Homo sapiens: one gene and its partners. The protein of the gene in region 4 purifies or fractionates together with the protein of the main gene of each other region. This does not show direct contact. Each region holds a gene or a part of one and is shown on either strand. Other genes may lie near its edges. The genes, in order: MB21D2, PKP2, PICALM and SERPINB1.

Region 1 (4,300 bases), on a different chromosome or scaffold from region 4:
AGCAAGGGTTCCTATGTGGATTTACTTTTTCTAAAGCAGATTTTGGCTTGGCTTAAAGAACAAAATCATTTTTTTTATACACTTTGTTTCACTTGCCATAGCTTTGGTTCTTTGATGACTATGCAAATGAAGTCTCTTAATGACCCCTAGCTTGTTAAGGTGTTACTTGGGTGGTACCAGGCCCTCATTTCAGGGCGGGGGGGTGGAGGGTGGCCAGTCCTCTTGGCTTTGTTCTGTATCTGAGCTGCACCTGGGGATTGTTAGCAGCTTACAGATATTATCCCCTCACACAGAATGAAGTGGCCAACCACGAATTGGGTGCAAGCCTCTTTAGTGGAGCTGAGAAAAATACTGCCTCATGTTTCAGGCAGTTGGCAGGGGTGAGGCATGTTACTCTCTTTTTGTGTAAGATTGTTAGCCAAGTCTGAAGCCCCTCCAGCTTCACAGATCCTTTTCATTTTGTCTAGTTTGGAGGAATTTTACACTGAAGAGCAAGGAGGTGGTAGACAGCTGTCATAATCAATGACCTGTCAACACCAAGACACTCCACTGTCTTATCAAAGTAGGGTTCTGCACAGGCTGTGGGGTTGATCTGAGCTTGCTGGTGGTCACTGTGGTCTCTGGGGTCTGTCCTGATGCTCTCTGTTTGTACAGAGATTCTGATTTTTTTTTGGAGGCAGGTGTTAGCTGCAATTGTCTAGATTCACTTCTTATTCCTCTGTACCTTGGTCTTTTAGGAGAATGATTGGTGTTATTATCTAGTTAATATTTGAGAGCCCAGACTGTGCGAAAGGCTGGCAGTGCATAATAAACACCATTTATCAAAATTCAGGGAAATTGCCAGAGTTCATTAATGTTTTAATAATATTTGGTATTAGCATAATGTCTCTGCCAGCTCTTTTGTTATCTTCATTCCCTGGTGAGGTTCGATAGAGACTGGTTTGTGTCCCCATTGAACAGATGCAGAAAAGGGGGTATGCAGATGCTGGAGAAGGCAGGAAAGAAACAAGCCGTCACCTAACCTACAGACCAAGTGGTCGGTACCATGGCATGATTTTTACGGTAGTTAATCATTTACTAATCATCTTCTCAGGGCCAGGAACTTCACATAGACTTTTGAGGAGGTATTGCTTTCCCATTACATAGATGAAGATATTGAAATTTAGTGGGGTGAAGAAAGTGGATATCCAGGGTCACAAAGCTAATAGATGGTAGAGATGCTACTGAAACTCAGGTCAGCCTTACTCTAAAACATGTTCCTCTTCTCCTACTTGAGACTATTAAGAATAGATGCATAAAATCCAGAGGAAAGGCTTTGTTTTAAAAAATCACTTCTTTCAGGATTTTGTTTCGATTTTAGCTATAAGTTTTAGCGTAATATAAGTAGATTTCTGGAACAGTCTGAGTTCAAGTATTCTATAATAAGATCTCCTATTTGAATTTTTGATTGAGAAAATCATAGTAATTATAATAAAATGTTAAAATCTATAGTTTCATTCCCAGTCTGCCTCTTGTTGGCTTTGTGGTCTTAGTATTTTCTCTCTCTTTTTTTGAGACAGGATCTTGCTCCGTTGCCCAGCCTGGAGTGCAATAGTATGATCATGGCTCACCGCAGCCTCAAAGTCCTAGGCGTAAGCTATCTTCCTGTCTCAGCCTCCCTAGTGGCTAGGACTAGAGATGTGTACCACCGTGCCCAGCTAATTTTTTATTTTTTAAAATTTTTGTGTAGATGGAGTCTCACTATGTTGCCCAGGCTGGTCTCAAAATCCTGGCCTCAAGTGATCCTTCTGGCTTGGCCTCCCAAAGTGCTGGTATTACAGGCATGAGCCACCATGCCTGGCCAGTTTTTTCATTTATTAAACATGGATAACAGTAAGCATTGTTTTTCAGAACTGTTATGTCAGAATGTGAAATTACTTTGCTAACTAAAAAAGAATATATACGTGAGTTTATTATTTAAATAAATGTTTGTTTATTTATTTATTTGAGACAGGGTCTCGCTCTGTCACCTAGGCTAGAGTGCAGTGGTACAGTCTCAGCTCACTGCAACCTCTACTTCCTGGGCTCCAAGTGATCCTCCCACCCCAGCCTCCCAAGTAGCTAGGAGTGCAGGCGTGTAACACCACGCCTGGCTAGTTTTTTGTATTTTTGGTAGAGACAGGGTTTCGCCATGTTGCCCAGGCTGGTCTCACACCCCTGAGTTCAAGCAATCCTCCTGCTTTGACCTCCCAGAGTGCTGGGATAAAAATATACTTTCTTAGAAGATCCAGTGAACTTAAATTGGAATTATTTCTGCAGCTTGACATCTGAAAGAACTATGCAGTACAATTAGGGTAGCCCAGGAGGATTTTGGCTCATACCATGTGCTGACCATTGTGCTAGCTACTTTGCCTAAGTCCATTAGCTCATGTAATCTTTTTTCCACAACTTTGTAAGCATAAGTATCATGCCTATTTTGGAAGTGAAATAGGTGTTGTTACCCTTTTTAAAGATGAAATGGTGAGGCTCAAAGAAAGAAGTCAAGAACTTAGGCCAAGATCATTCAGAGTTGGAGACTGAATCCAGTTATTCCTGACTCAGAAGCTCATGTTCCTTTTACTGTAGTAGCAATCAGTTTCCATCACTTTTGGGTGAGACATACTATACTCAGTAGCCTGCCTAGTCTGTAGGAGCAAAGATAATTTCTTTTTTTCTTTTTTCTTTTTTTTTTGAGATACAGTTTTGCCCTTGTTGCCCAGGCTGGAGTGCAGTGGCATGATCTTGGCTCACTGCAACCTCTGCCTCCTGGGTTCAAGTGATTCTCCTGCCTCAGCCTCCCGAGTAGCTGGGATTACAGGCGCCCGCTACCACACCTGGCCAATTTTTGTATTTTTAGTAGAGATGGGGTTTCACCATGTTGTTGGCCAAGGCTGGTCTAGAACTCCTGACCTCAGGTGATCCACCCACCTCGGCCTCCCAAAGTGCTGGGATTACAGGCGTAAGCCACCATGCCCCGCCTGAGATAATTTCTTTTTGTCTTCCTGTCTCTGTCCCTCTTTCTCTCCCTCTGTTTTTTTCACGCATTTGACAAATACTTAATGAATGTAATAGTGTTTGCCAATCAGCGTGCAGGGTTCTGAAGATAAAATGGTGAACAAAAACTTTGAGAAATTCATAAGGGCCTTCAGGGACCCCTCCCCTGTTTCCTTTGCCCACCAACTCTAGCAGGATATTTTGCTGGCTGTTTCTCCTTTCAGGCCAATAAGTGCCATGTGGCCATTTCAAAGATGTAAATGCTTGGTGTGGTGCTCCTGGACCTACCATATTTTTAGGCACTTTCTACATCTCCAGAGTGGGTAATTTTGAAGCCCTACCTTTCCAGTGTTTGATTGCTACTTTTCTGTTAATGAATTCCCCCAGCAGGATTTACCATGGAAATTTATGGTGCGTTGGTGTTTTATGGGCCTCCATGTGCTTGGAAAGTTCCCGAGAGTTGTATTCACTATGTGCTGCATCTGTAGAGTGCACAGGATCATCTCGGAAGTTTGTTCTATCTCTGAGAACATTATGTATCCAGGGCAGGGGATCTCTCCAAACATTCATTTTTGTGCTAGTTTGGATTGGTTTCAATTCCCCCTCCATGGTTCTGGGCAGTGGCTGCCCTTCGTCCTTGAGAGAAGAGGCCTAGAACTGTCGACAGTCCTGGGTCTTCCTGTCATTCCTTGTCATGCCACTCATTGGATAATACATTGCTCACAGTTAGGCTGAGCCCCTTTTTAATTCACAGAAATATTAGATTCTAACAATTCAAAATCTCTGGTCCCATTCAGACCTATTGAATCCGAATTCCCTAGAGATCCCCCAACAAGCTGCTCAGCATGTCAACATCCTGTCCTGTGTTAGGCTTGATGTTCTGCATTCTCTGTTCTAGGCACAGTGAGCATGATCCCAGTTGACTTTTGAGACTAGAACCAAGCTGCTGAGCCTAATGAGCAGATAATGTCTGTCTGCTCCTGGAAAGTAATAGTGGAGTTCTTCCACCTGGGACAGAGACAAAAAGGCATAGTGAGTGAGACAAGGGTGTTTACTATGTCACAGGTTTTAATAGGACTTTACTGTATCATTTAATCATCACCATTACACTTTGAGGTTAAAAAAAAAAAACTGTGGTGAACCCTAGAATTAGAAAAATATAGGAATTCATCCAAGTTTACCAGCAAGTGAGTGGCATAGGTGGGACTTAACCTGGGTCAGGATGAATACAAAACCCTGGCTTTTAACAAGGACAATATTCTGCACTCAGGACCAAGAGACCCAGATT
Region 2 (3,562 bases), on a different chromosome or scaffold from region 4:
TTTTCCATTTGCTCTATATGGAAACGTAAAGAGATTTTGAAACTGCTTTAACAAGGGCTGCCACAAGAATTTCTTTTATTGACTTGAAAAATTACTCCTACATTCATGATGTCACAAAATCGTATGTATTTTTCAGTCATGGTTTCATGCATTTTTATTCTATAAACATACATTATAAGTATACAAATATAGATTATATTCTATAAATAATTCAAGGATTTATAACATATCTAAAGATACATTCCTTATAAATATCAGGGATTTTTCTGTATAAATTACTTGTTTGTTTATTATTATTATTATTATTTTGAGATGGAGTCTAGCTTTGTCACCAGGCTGGAGTGCAGTGGCGTGATCTCGGCTCACTGCAACCTCCGCCTCCCGGGTTCAAGTGATTCTCCTGCCTCAGCCTCCCGAGTAGCTGGGATTACAGGCACACACTGCCACGCCCAGCTAGATTTTGTATTTTTAGTACAGACGGGGTTTCACCATGTTGGCCAGGATGGTCTGACCTCGTGATCTACCCACCTCAGCCTCCCAAAAGTGCTGGGATTACAGGCGTGAGCCACCCCACCTGGCCTATAAACTATTTATTTATTAGCACTGTGCTAGTGGTTTAAAAAGAAAACAAAAACAGATATGGTCCCCGCCTTGCAGAGCTTGCTGCCTAATTGTCTGGTCACCGAGTGGCCTGACTTCATGGATGGCTGCTGCGGAGTAGCAGTTGAGGAGCGAAGAGGTCTTACAGAACACCCACAGGCCGCATCCAGAAGCCTCACTCATTCTCCCTGATCTCAGAATGTCCTTTTCTTTTCAGCTATGCCTCCAACAAAGCAAGTAAAGCTGCTTCCGTCCTTCTGTATTCTCTGTGGGCACACACGGAACTGCATCATGCCTACAAGAAGGTAAGAACATGAACAAGGAATGTGTCATAGTTAACAGAGCCAGGTAATAATGGCCCACTTGACTTGACCCTGGGAAGAAATCGCTAAAAAACTGCATTTTCTTGTGTGCCAGTTTTGTTACCTTTCACGTTTCTGTTTGCTTATTCCAAAGGCTCAGTTTAAGAAGACAGATTTTGTCAACAGCCGGACTGCCAAAGCCTACCACTCCCTTAAAGACTGAGGAAAATGACAAAGTATTCTCGGCTGCAAAAATCCCCAAAGGAAAACACCTATTTTTCTACTACCCAGCCCAAGAAACCTCAAAAGCATGCCTTGTTTCTATCCTTCTCTATTTCCGTGGTCCCCTGAATCCAGAAAACAAATAGAACATAATTTTATGAGTCTTCCAGAAGACCTTTGCAAGTTTGCCACCAGTAGATACCGGCCACAGGCTCGACAAATAGTGGTCTTTGTTATTAGGGCTTATGGTACATGGCTTCCTGGAATCAAAATGTGAATTCATGTGGAAGGGACATTAATCCAATAAATAAGGAAAGAAGCTGTTGCATTACTGGGATTTTAAAAGTTTGATTTACATTTATATTCCTTTTCTGGTTCCCATGTTTTGTCACTCATGTGCACATTGCTTCGCCATTGGGCCTCCAGTGTATTGTTCTGCAGTGTTGAAACAGAATGGAAATGACAAGAAATATCTGCAGTTATCCAGGAGAAAGTATAATGGCAAAATTATTGGTTTCTTTCTTTACTTTGTGCTTGTTTTTATCCCCTTGGGTTGTTTTTCTCTGATTTTTAAATAAACTTAAGAAATTTAGATTACAGAGTATGCATGACTGTAAGAAAAAGAAATTGAGAGGAAGTGATCATAGCAAATTAAAGAAGTCTTTTCCTCCCAGAACTTAAAGTAAAATAAAAAATAAATAAATAAATAAAATCTTTTCCACAGAGAAAGGCAACTGTGATGATAAAATTTAACGTTCCCCCAAACACTGAGTCAATGAGATTTTTCTCAGGAGATACTTTACCTATAACAACGCCGTTAAATCCAAATCTCTTCTAAACGATGGCATTCTATGTAATGCCTTTCCTGGACTTTTTTGGCCACTGCCCTGGACTAGTGAAAGAATGGACTCTATCTTTATCTGCAAGAGGAACTAAGGCCTTCTCTCAGACTGCCTGGCCAGCCTGGGGCACTGAAAATACGGCTCATGTTAATGAGTTACATTATCAGCCAGCCCAGCCTTGCCCACCATTTAAGAAATATCACAGAGCCACTAGATCTCATATGATCTTCTTCAAGCCATTATTTTAACTCAAGAAAACTCTAGAGAAGAAAAGTGAAGAAGTCATGTTGAAGAAGATGTAAGAATGTGTCAAGACCATCCAGAAATGATATGAGAAATACTGATATTTTAAATGGTTGACATCATCCAGCGAAATGAATCTACATTAAATGTTGTTTTAACTGCGCTATGATTAAAACCATTCATATAGAGTTAGTCTTTACAACTACTATTCTGTTATTTTTTTTTTTAATCTGACAACATTTGTCCTAAGTAAGATAAGCAAAAAAATTCTTCAACTCCTTTTGGCAAGAAAACTGTAACAGAAAATAAATTTTGAATGTGTACTTAAGTCTTTATTATATTTGAAGCAATTTTTTTTCAATTTTAAAAGCTGAATGAAGACAACTTAGGTTGCTAACCTAGTTCAAAATGAAATTATTTAGATACCAATTTTTAAAATACTGGAGAGAATTTATATGTCTTTTTCCAGAGTTCTGATGATAAGCATTTGGAGTGCATTTATTCCTCCAGATAATAAATGTGTGTTCAGAACTTTTTGTGTTTTTTAAGGCATTAATAAAGCCTTCGATAATATTAAATACAAAATGAGACCAAAGTAGTGTTGCTTGCATTGGCGTCTGTGTATATCTGGTTTATTTGTGTATCTTGGAATATATGGTATGATTGACATAAAATTTGAGGATTTAACCTTATAAACTTCAATTACTAAGGGTTTGATACTTTGTAATTAGTTATATTTTCCCCTTAATTAAAATCCTAAATTTTTACCAAGAGACATTTCCTGTGAGAATGGTGGGACTAGATGGTGACCTGACCATAAAAATGAAGACACATGCAGACGTGTTAGCTGCGGTTAGATTTTAGTATATTATTGGGTGATTCTGTGACTGTGAAAAGACAGACTACGTTTGATTTCCATGTGCTGCTTTGTTCACTCTGTTTGCAAACACCTCACTACTTTACAATTTGTGAACACCTCTCAGGGAGGTTCTTCTGTGAATGAACAGTTTTGATCACAGGTCTATACATAAATGTGTTTGTTTTCCTATGTGTCCCAGACAGGGCCCATGCCTTCAGAGAAACTAATGGGCAAAGCTGGGCCTTTTTGTTTATTTGTTCCAAAGGGCTGCTCTCTGTCAAGAATTCTTAATGGTCTTCTGGAATGAAGGGGGTTGCTGCCCTAGATTTCCATCACTGGAAACGTTTGTGTAGATCTGATGGCAATAACCAAAGGGTTATCTGATAAAATAGAGAGGGGATTAACATGTCAAGTGGGAGAATAAGCAGCAGGACTAGATAAACCACTATAAAACCAATTTAATCACCTTCTGAAGAAGCAATTTCTTAGAAGAA
Region 3 (4,300 bases), on a different chromosome or scaffold from region 4:
TTTAAGTTGAAATCCATCTCTTTGACTCTGAATCCAGTCTTCTTCCCACTATAACACACCTCACTGACTAGGGTATGGTAGGAGTTTAGAGTAGTGGATTTTATGGACTCGTGTGAATTATGACATTGATGATGTATGAGGAATGATATAAATACCAGTGCTGCTATTAAAATATAATGAATATTTTCTTATATTAAGTTAGTATTAATCTATATGAAGTATTAGGAGTTCATAGATAGCACTTAAGACTGACTACTAAAATGTAGTAGGTATTTAGTCATGTAGAATTTGTATTTAAGTTGATAAGGTAACAGTCTTTATCTTGCTGTGTTATATATGGTAATGTGTATCATCTCCTAAGGATTTTGCTTAAATATTTATATGTATTTTATGGAGTTTTCTTTTTAATGGCTAATGTTTGGGGCTGATAATGTGATTCACTACTTAAGATAAACTGCTGCTTTTGACATTTCTTTACATTTCTAACCTTTTTATTAATCCTTAAACACTGTCAAGGTTTTTCAGTGTTTTTTAAATTTAACACAAATTCATTGGAATTTTATTAAAATATATATTATACTACAAATTCTTTTAATTAGTGCTTGCTTTTTTTCTGTGGTAGACATCTGATGCAACCCTGTTTATGCAATGCCCAAAATTTTGCACTGTTGACACTGTTGATAGAATTGATGTTTTAATGGTACTTGTAATCAATAAACTATTTTTTATATAAAGAGATGAGGCCAAAGACTACAATTCCCTTGTCAACCTTGATAGTGTTTTAGTATAGATGTTCTTTCATTAGATACTGGAAATACAAGGGATTTTAGGTAGTTAGTGAATGTACATGTGAACTAAAATGCTCTCTGTGTATTTTCTGTTGTGTAAGTACTTGTTCTAATCCAGTGTTATTGCATTATGTAATTGTTCTCCCTGGGAAAAACAGAATGGCATGCATTTTCCACAATACGTAAGTGACCAAAAACGAGCCTTTTTGCAATAAATTGGCATGCTATTAACCACTGCTGTAGCAGAATCTCATAACCTTTCAGCTATTACTTGTTTTCACATTCAGATTTTCAATGTGCCAGAAATTCTTCCTAGCATCTACTGATTTCATGGGTGTGTTGCAGAATTGATTCTGATGGTGGCATGGGAAATACCGATTTTTTTTCTTGCTTAATATTCCGCCATTTGCTGCCAGATGGCTGGGTGTCTGTGTGTGTATCTGTGCTGCCACTATGCACTTGATGACTTCTGAATGAAGGGAAATGTTGATTGTGGTAATGTTTAAAATAACAACTGCATGAAATCTTACAGGCTTCTGCTCTTCTTGGCAGTTTGTCTACTGCTCTTGCAGATCTTGGTTTTAAGTAGGGAGAGACCAATAAGTCCTACACGCTCACCCGAATACTAAACTTATAACTATTCACTTTAGTGTTATTTTTTTAAAGTTATATTTCATTTAATTTCTCCATGCATATGTTCAAATTGCCATATAATTTCAGTTATTTTATGTTTTAGCAGTGTTATTGGTCTTTCACCTTTATTCAATTTCAGTTTTCATTATGAGAAACACACACAGGAAATGTTGTTAAGACAGCAACTATATCTAAAATGATTCTGTTCTCAAATTGTATGTTTACAGATAATCAAAGTAGTAGGAAGAGGGGAACTTAAACATCATAGTGATAGATGGTTCTTTTAAACATGAAAGCATAAACTGACCTAATTGATTGTTCCTCTTAAATAATTTTTGGAATAAATTAGAAAGCTAACGTACATACTCTATATAAGAACTATGGCTCATAGAAATAGTCATACTCAATAGTAGTTTGAAACCTTTGGAGTTTTTTGAAAAGAGTGAGTAAGATCCTTAGAAACTAACTTTTTGGAAGATCAGGTTATTGATTGATTTGAGATCTTTACATTTTTTTCTTTGAATGCTAAAGCAATCAGGTACCTAAGTAAGAAAACATTCAATAATACTTTTTCTGGGTAGACATTTTTTAATGATAGTGATAGGCTTTAAATTTTAGAACTATTTAGAACTATTTAAGATACTTTTTTAAATCTAAAGATTTTTAAAGCTGTAAAAAGCATGATGAAATCTTAGATCACTGCTGTATCTAAGTTTAAGTGGTATAGTTATCCTTCTAATAAGTCTGCTTTTCTGCTAATTTCAAAACACTTTTTTTCACTGACCATTAATCGACAGTTCTTAATGATCACAAGTGTCACTTACTCACAGCTGTCTTAGCAATTCTTTTTAGTGGAACTACAGCTACTAATTCCTTGAACTCAGTTGACACACATGAGTTATACTTTCTTGTTCATTTTTCCTTTCACTATGTTAGGCACCCCCTGTAATGGCCTATCCTGCTACTACACCAACAGGCATGATAGGATATGGAATTGTAAGTATTTTCCTAGGTACAGCTTTTGGAAAAAATATTGATTCATATATAACATGTTTTTATTACAATTTAACCTAAAAAAGAATTTAGTGCTCCTCATACTCCTAGCCCTAGTGCCTAATGCAGTAGAACCATAGCATTGGTTTCATAAGTATGTCTAGAATAATCATTATACAAGAGATCTTATGCATTAATGTTCATAGTATTACTTGGTTTATTTTTCTCCTCGTAACTTTGCTGGGCCTTTTATATTTCAAACATTAATGTTAATTCTAAGCCTTTGTTGCTGTGACCATATATTAAATACCAGTGAGGTCTTATAACCTGATATTGTAGGGCATGGGAGGGATTAACACTTGAATTGTATAGAGATAAATTTAGTCTGATAAAGGCTAGAGAAATTTTCCTGTGACAATGATTATTACAGTACAAAAACAGTCTTTTAACCTTTCAAAATGCCACAATGTGCATTTTAGATTGCCCTTAGTTTCCCAACTCTCAGTATATAGAGACTCAATTAGAAAAGAAATGGTGCTAGTAGCTTCAACCCACTGGTATGTATTTGAGGAACTGTTCCTGGTAGAAGGCAGTACCGTGTCCCTTGGTATTGCTACTGTGCCTGCTATGTTACTTCTTTATGTATATGATATGGAAGTAACTCCTTTTATACATGTGGAGAAGTTTCACAGCTTTTTTTCATAGTCATTGCATTAAAATGTCTGCTGAGGCTGGGTGTGGTGGCTTACGCCTGTAATCCCAGCACTTTGGGAGGCCAAGGTGGGTGGATCACCTGAGGTTGGGAGTTCAAGACCAGCCTGACCAATATGGTGAAACTCCGTCTCTACTAAAAATACAAAAATTAGCTGGGTATGGTGGCGCACACCTGTAATTCCAGCTACTTGGGAGGCTGAGGCAGGAGAATGGCTTGAACCCAGGAGGCAGAGGTCACAGTGAGTTGAGATCATGCCACTGCACTCCAGTCTGGGCAACGGAGCAAGACTCCATCTCAAAAAAAAAAAAAAAAAAAAAAGTCTGCTGAGAAACTCAGGCCATAAACTTAAAATGAAGCTCTAAATGCAAATAGTAGTCTGCTTGAAACAATAAATAGAACTTCTTGAAAGGAAAGATTTTAGAGCATTGCATTTTAACCAAAACAGTATTCTGTTTGTGCATTATTTTTACACTAGGTATTGTCACTTACTAGGTTAATTTTATACCCTGTAGTGGTAATTTTTAAAGAAACATATTTGGTTGAGATTGTATTTTCAGTTACTCAAGAAAGAGTTAACCTCTGGTTTGTAGTTTAAGCTCTTTCTTGATTCTTATATGAAATAAAATGGAAGAACTAGAGCAGGCTTATTCAGAGAATCAACTGTCTTCACTTGTGATCACTTGCATAATGGCAAAAGTACTTGATTTGTTATACAAATTTACTTTGAAATTTCTTAGCAGCGAAGACAGAGTCTTAAGTTTTCTTGATGTCTAAACCTGATAAATTTGGAAACTCTTAGTCTTAATCATTTTATCTGTTGTAATACAATAAAGTTTACATTTTGCAACTCATTGAATAGAAAAAGTTAGGCTTTGTTACTACATTTTAAAAATGAGCATGTTAAAGACTTTACTTACCAAAAGAAAAAAAAATACTCTCGAAAGTTTGTAGCTGTTAGTCTTACTTATATTCAGAGGAAGTTACCCTTTGAGTCAAGCAAAGGTACTAGGACCTGTCATCCCTGTTGTCATTGTTATTTACTTAGTCACAATAAGGAAGATAGGAGTCAGTATCTTTTGATATTTTTCTCTTTTTTAGCCTCCACAAATGGGAAGTGTTCCTGTAATGACGCAACCAACCTTAATATACAGCCAGCCTGTCATGAGACCTC
Region 4 (4,300 bases):
CTTAAGTGCCGTGTGCTGGAACTGCCTTACCAAGGCGAGGAGCTCAGCATGGTCATCCTGCTGCCGGATGACATTGAGGACGAGTCCACGGGCCTGAAGAAGGTATGGCTCCTGGGCTTCATGCTTTGTGGTTCCTCTTGCATGTGTGTGTCGCATGGTAGGTAGGTGCTTGTTAAGTGTTCACTGATGGTGCATTTTCCAGTAGTTTGTCATTCCTTTGTAAATGTAGCCCATCAACACTTACTACACTAAAGCCCAGAGTTAATTTTTTTTTAAATTTACTTATAGAGACAAGGTCTCACTATGTTGTTTAGGCTGGTCTTGACCTCCTGGCTTCCAGCAATCCTCCTGCCTCAGCCTTCTGAGTAGCTGGGACTATAGCTGTGAGCCACTGTGCCCGGCTAACGTTTCATTTTTCAAGAAAGATGGCCAGCTACTTTCAGTGGACACTTGTGATGGGGTCATTAAAGATCTATACTAAATATAATACTGGTTAGTGGCAGCTCATGGAAAGGCTCTTGAATTAGCTTTAGAGGAAATTACAGTAAGATGAGGATTGTTTTACTGAGGAAAAAGATTGAAAAGCCCCAAATAGTGTAGCATATATCTTCATCACGTACTATAAAATTCTATTATTACACTGTTTGTTCTCATCACAATTCATATAGATAGTGAATTAAATTTTCAATGGGTACAAGACAGAAAAAGCCTCATGTGACATGTTAGGCCTATTTACTAGTATGATCTTTGCATGAGGTTTCCATTATATGTAGGGACTCTAGCCTGCTCTGTGCTCTCCGTCTCCTCCCTATCCACCTATTCATCATCCTTGCTATCAGGAAGGGGGTCTAATGTTAATCATTTGCATGTACAGACTTTTAATACATTGTATAACAATCAATGTGGCCTTTCTTTTGGTTGTATTTTTGCATTAGTTTTTTTTCTGATTGTAAAGTGAAAATCTCTAGCCTCTTAAAAGGAATTATCAGCACCATTAGAAGAAGTAGAGTGATGGTTCTATTCCAGTCCAATAGCTATAACAATAGTAATGATAATAGCTGACATTTATGTAGCACTATGGGCCAAGCACTTTATATACATCATTTCATTTAATGCTCTCAACAATCTATAAGGTAGATATAAGTAATGTCCACATCACATTTCAGATGAGGAACTAGCTCCAGTGCATAATCTGCCTTTAAAATTTTTACCTAGGAGCTAAAGTTATTAGATATTACTTCAGCTTCAGTGGGATTCAGACTAAATAGAAGAAATATTTTAAATTTCTTCTAGCACTACTCAACCTGGAAGTAATAGCAGCTGTCATGACCTATCACTGTAATCCATTGTGGTAGGGGTTTAGTAAACCCTGGATGAATGGATGGATGGATGAATGGGTAGATGGATGGGTGGATGGGTGGATGAGTAAATGGGTGGATGGATGATAGATAGGTGGATAGATTGTTGGATGGGTGGGTGGGTGGATAGGTGAATGGATGGATGGATGGGTGGATGGGTAGATGGATGATGAATAGGTGGATAGATGGTTGGATGGGTGGGTGGGTAGATAGGTGAATAAATGGATGGATGGATGGGTGGCTGTGTTGCTGGGTAGCTGGGTGGATGGATGGATGGATGGATGGATGGATGGATGGATGGATGAGTGGACAAATGGGTGGATGGATGGGTGGATGGGTGGGTGAGTGGATGATGGACCCAATGTACAAATCCCTTGAACCTTTGATGACTTGGAACACCACCTCTGCCCTATTTCACCAATTGCCATAATGAAATAAAATGCTCCAAATGGAATCTGTTTTGGCACAAAACATGAAGGAAACTAACTAGCAACTGATATTATGGGTCCATTGATTCAATAATACTTTATTGCCTTACTTATGTAAAATTGATATCACTTCCTCTTTCGCCTCATTTTTAATTGCAGATTGAGGAACAGTTGACTTTGGAAAAGTTGCATGAGTGGACTAAACCTGAGAATCTCGATTTCATTGAAGTTAATGTCAGCTTGCCCAGGTTCAAACTGGAAGAGAGTTACACTCTCAACTCCGACCTCGCCCGCCTAGGTGTGCAGGATCTCTTTAACAGTAGCAAGGCTGATCTGTCTGGCATGTCAGGAGCCAGAGATATTTTTATATCAAAAATTGTCCACAAGTCATTTGTGGAAGTGAATGAAGAGGGAACAGAGGCGGCAGCTGCCACAGCAGGCATCGCAACTTTCTGCATGTTGATGCCCGAAGAAAATTTCACTGCCGACCATCCATTCCTTTTCTTTATTCGGCATAATTCCTCAGGTAGCATCCTATTCTTGGGGAGATTTTCTTCCCCTTAGAAGAAAGAGACTGTAGCAATACAAAAATCAAGCTTAGTGCTTTATTACCTGAGTTTTTAATAGAGCCAATATGTCTTATATCTTTACCAATAAAACCACTGTTCAGAAACAAGTCTTTCATTTTCTTTGTAAGTTTGGCTCTGTTGGCTGTTTACACCCATGAATTTTGGCATGGGTATCTATTTTTCTTTTTTACATTGAAAAAAATCCAGTGGTTGCTTTTGAATGCATCAAGTAAAGAAGAAGAAAAGAATACATCCGATGCGTAGATTCTTGACCATGTAGTAATCTATAAAATTGCTATATCCTCCTGATAGCCATGGGAAAACATGATAAGATGGTCATTTATTTTGCAGTTAGAATTTTGGAAGCCACAAAATAGACAGACACCCTGACTGTTGAAGGGAGGTTTAAAAACAGATATTCAATTGAAATGTAAGAGAGCACCCCAATTGAGAGCCCAGGTTACGAAGACAAGCTTGCCTCGCCTGACTTTTCTGTCCCTTGTTCTGCAGGATTAGTATTCTGTTACAGACCTCTAGTTTTTAGACTCTTCAATTAAAGGGCCAATGGTTATAACCTGCATTCCCTTTTTTGTTCTTCTTTATGTATAATATATAGTTCATGTGGCGCTGCATGAAATCAAGAAGTGGGTGTCTTAGGATAAAAGATACCAAGAGTCTACAAAAATAACCATGTAGTAAGATAAACTGCTGAACAAAGGTTTTACTGTTAGCCACCTTCTCATGTGTTTTCTTTTCTCTTTTTCTTTTTCTTTCTTTCTTTCTTTTTTTTTTTTTTGAGACAGAGTCTTGCTCTGTTACCCAGGCTGGAGTGCAGTGGCACGATCTCAGCTCACCGCAACCTCTGCCTCCTGGGTTCAAGTGATTCTCTTGCTTCAGCCTCCTGAGTAGCTGGGATTATAGGCATGCACCACTAGGCCTGGCTAATTTTTGTATTTTTAGTAGAGATGGGGTTTTTCCATGTTGGCCAGGCTGGTCCCGAACTCCTGACCTCAGGTGATCCGCGCACCTCAGCCTCCCAAAGTGCTGGGATTACAGGCATGAGCTACCATGCCTGGCCTTCTCATGTGTTTTCTGATTAAGGCTCTTGACTTCCAAGGCTGTGTGGGGAGATGGGGTGGGGGCTCTTGGACTGATATAAAACTTTGTCAAATGTAGTTCTTTGAATGGAGCTTGAAACGCCGCATATTCTTGCTCCCACAAGGATAGTGGGCATCATGAATTAATAAAACGTCCTAGGATTCTGCAAGCTAGACTGGTCTCAGGCCTCTTCTTATTGCCCCCTATCCCTAGACAAGTTAAGACTGCAAGTGGGGATTATTGGCCTTACAACATTGTTGGTAGAGAGGAATTCCACATGTTAACAACAAAATTTTAGCAACTCTTTTGCCAACAAACTTTCTTTTCTCCCGCTTTCTTAAAATACTTACCATATTCCAGGTTTTCTCACTCTCAGGAAAAACTCTGCCTTCTGTAAGTCTTCTCTTTTGGTTCCTCATCCTAAAATCCACTCTGATTTGGAGTAAATCATGTTAATTGTGTAGAAACTGAATTGTAGGGGCCCAAGTGAGCCCGCTCAAATTATATATGAGGGAACAGGCCTATAGACTATAAGTAAATTGTTGAAGGTCAAAACAATTGGTGAGTTCCAGGGCAGAGACTAGAATCCAATGCGTATTTTATGTGGAGAGCATCTAATTTATGTAATGGTGAAATAGTTACCTCAGGCCTCTGAAGTCAGTTAAAAATCAAACAAATAAAACGAGCATCAGCCCAAAGGCAAGGGAGGGCTAATCTGAACATAAAGAATTATTGGGCCAAGATCCAGAACAAATTGGAAATTCAGAAAAGTGAATCTGGAAATTGGGGCCACTTCTGCCCCAGGGCCATCTGCCAGTCCAGAAGAGGGGAATGAGAAGTGGTAGAC

What was found.
Region 1: the proteins of SERPINB1 (region 4) and MB21D2 fractionate together in Homo sapiens (co-fractionation; one large-scale study listed by BioGRID). This does not show direct contact.
Region 2: the proteins of SERPINB1 (region 4) and PKP2 purify together in Homo sapiens (co-immunoprecipitation; one large-scale study listed by IntAct). This does not show direct contact.
Region 3: the proteins of SERPINB1 (region 4) and PICALM fractionate together in Homo sapiens (co-fractionation; one large-scale study listed by BioGRID). This does not show direct contact.

Annotation. Positions count from the first base shown.
Region 1 is NC_000003.12:192,911,084-192,915,383, reverse strand, and holds part of MB21D2 (nucleotidyltransferase MB21D2), read left to right. Parts: intron 1-4,300. UniProt on the Homo sapiens protein: Probable nucleotidyltransferase that catalyzes the formation of cyclic dinucleotide second messenger in response to some unknown stimulus.
Region 2 is NC_000012.12:32,789,987-32,793,548, reverse strand, and holds the end of PKP2 (plakophilin-2), read left to right. Parts: intron 1-817; coding exon 818-905; intron 906-1,056; coding exon 1,057-1,125; coding exon of another isoform or gene 1,126-1,270; 3' UTR 1,271-2,794; downstream 2,795-3,562. UniProt on the Homo sapiens protein: A component of desmosome cell-cell junctions which are required for positive regulation of cellular adhesion.
Region 3 is NC_000011.10:85,974,740-85,979,039, reverse strand, and holds part of PICALM (phosphatidylinositol-binding clathrin assembly protein), read left to right. Parts: intron 1-946; coding exon of another isoform or gene 947-970; intron 971-2,357; coding exon 2,358-2,417; intron 2,418-4,227; coding exon 4,228-4,300. UniProt on the Homo sapiens protein: Cytoplasmic adapter protein that plays a critical role in clathrin-mediated endocytosis which is important in processes such as internalization of cell receptors, synaptic transmission or removal of apoptotic cells.
Region 4 is NC_000006.12:2,831,658-2,835,957, reverse strand, and holds the end of SERPINB1 (leukocyte elastase inhibitor), read left to right. Parts: coding exon 1-102; intron 103-1,945; coding exon 1,946-2,350; 3' UTR 2,351-3,626; downstream 3,627-4,300.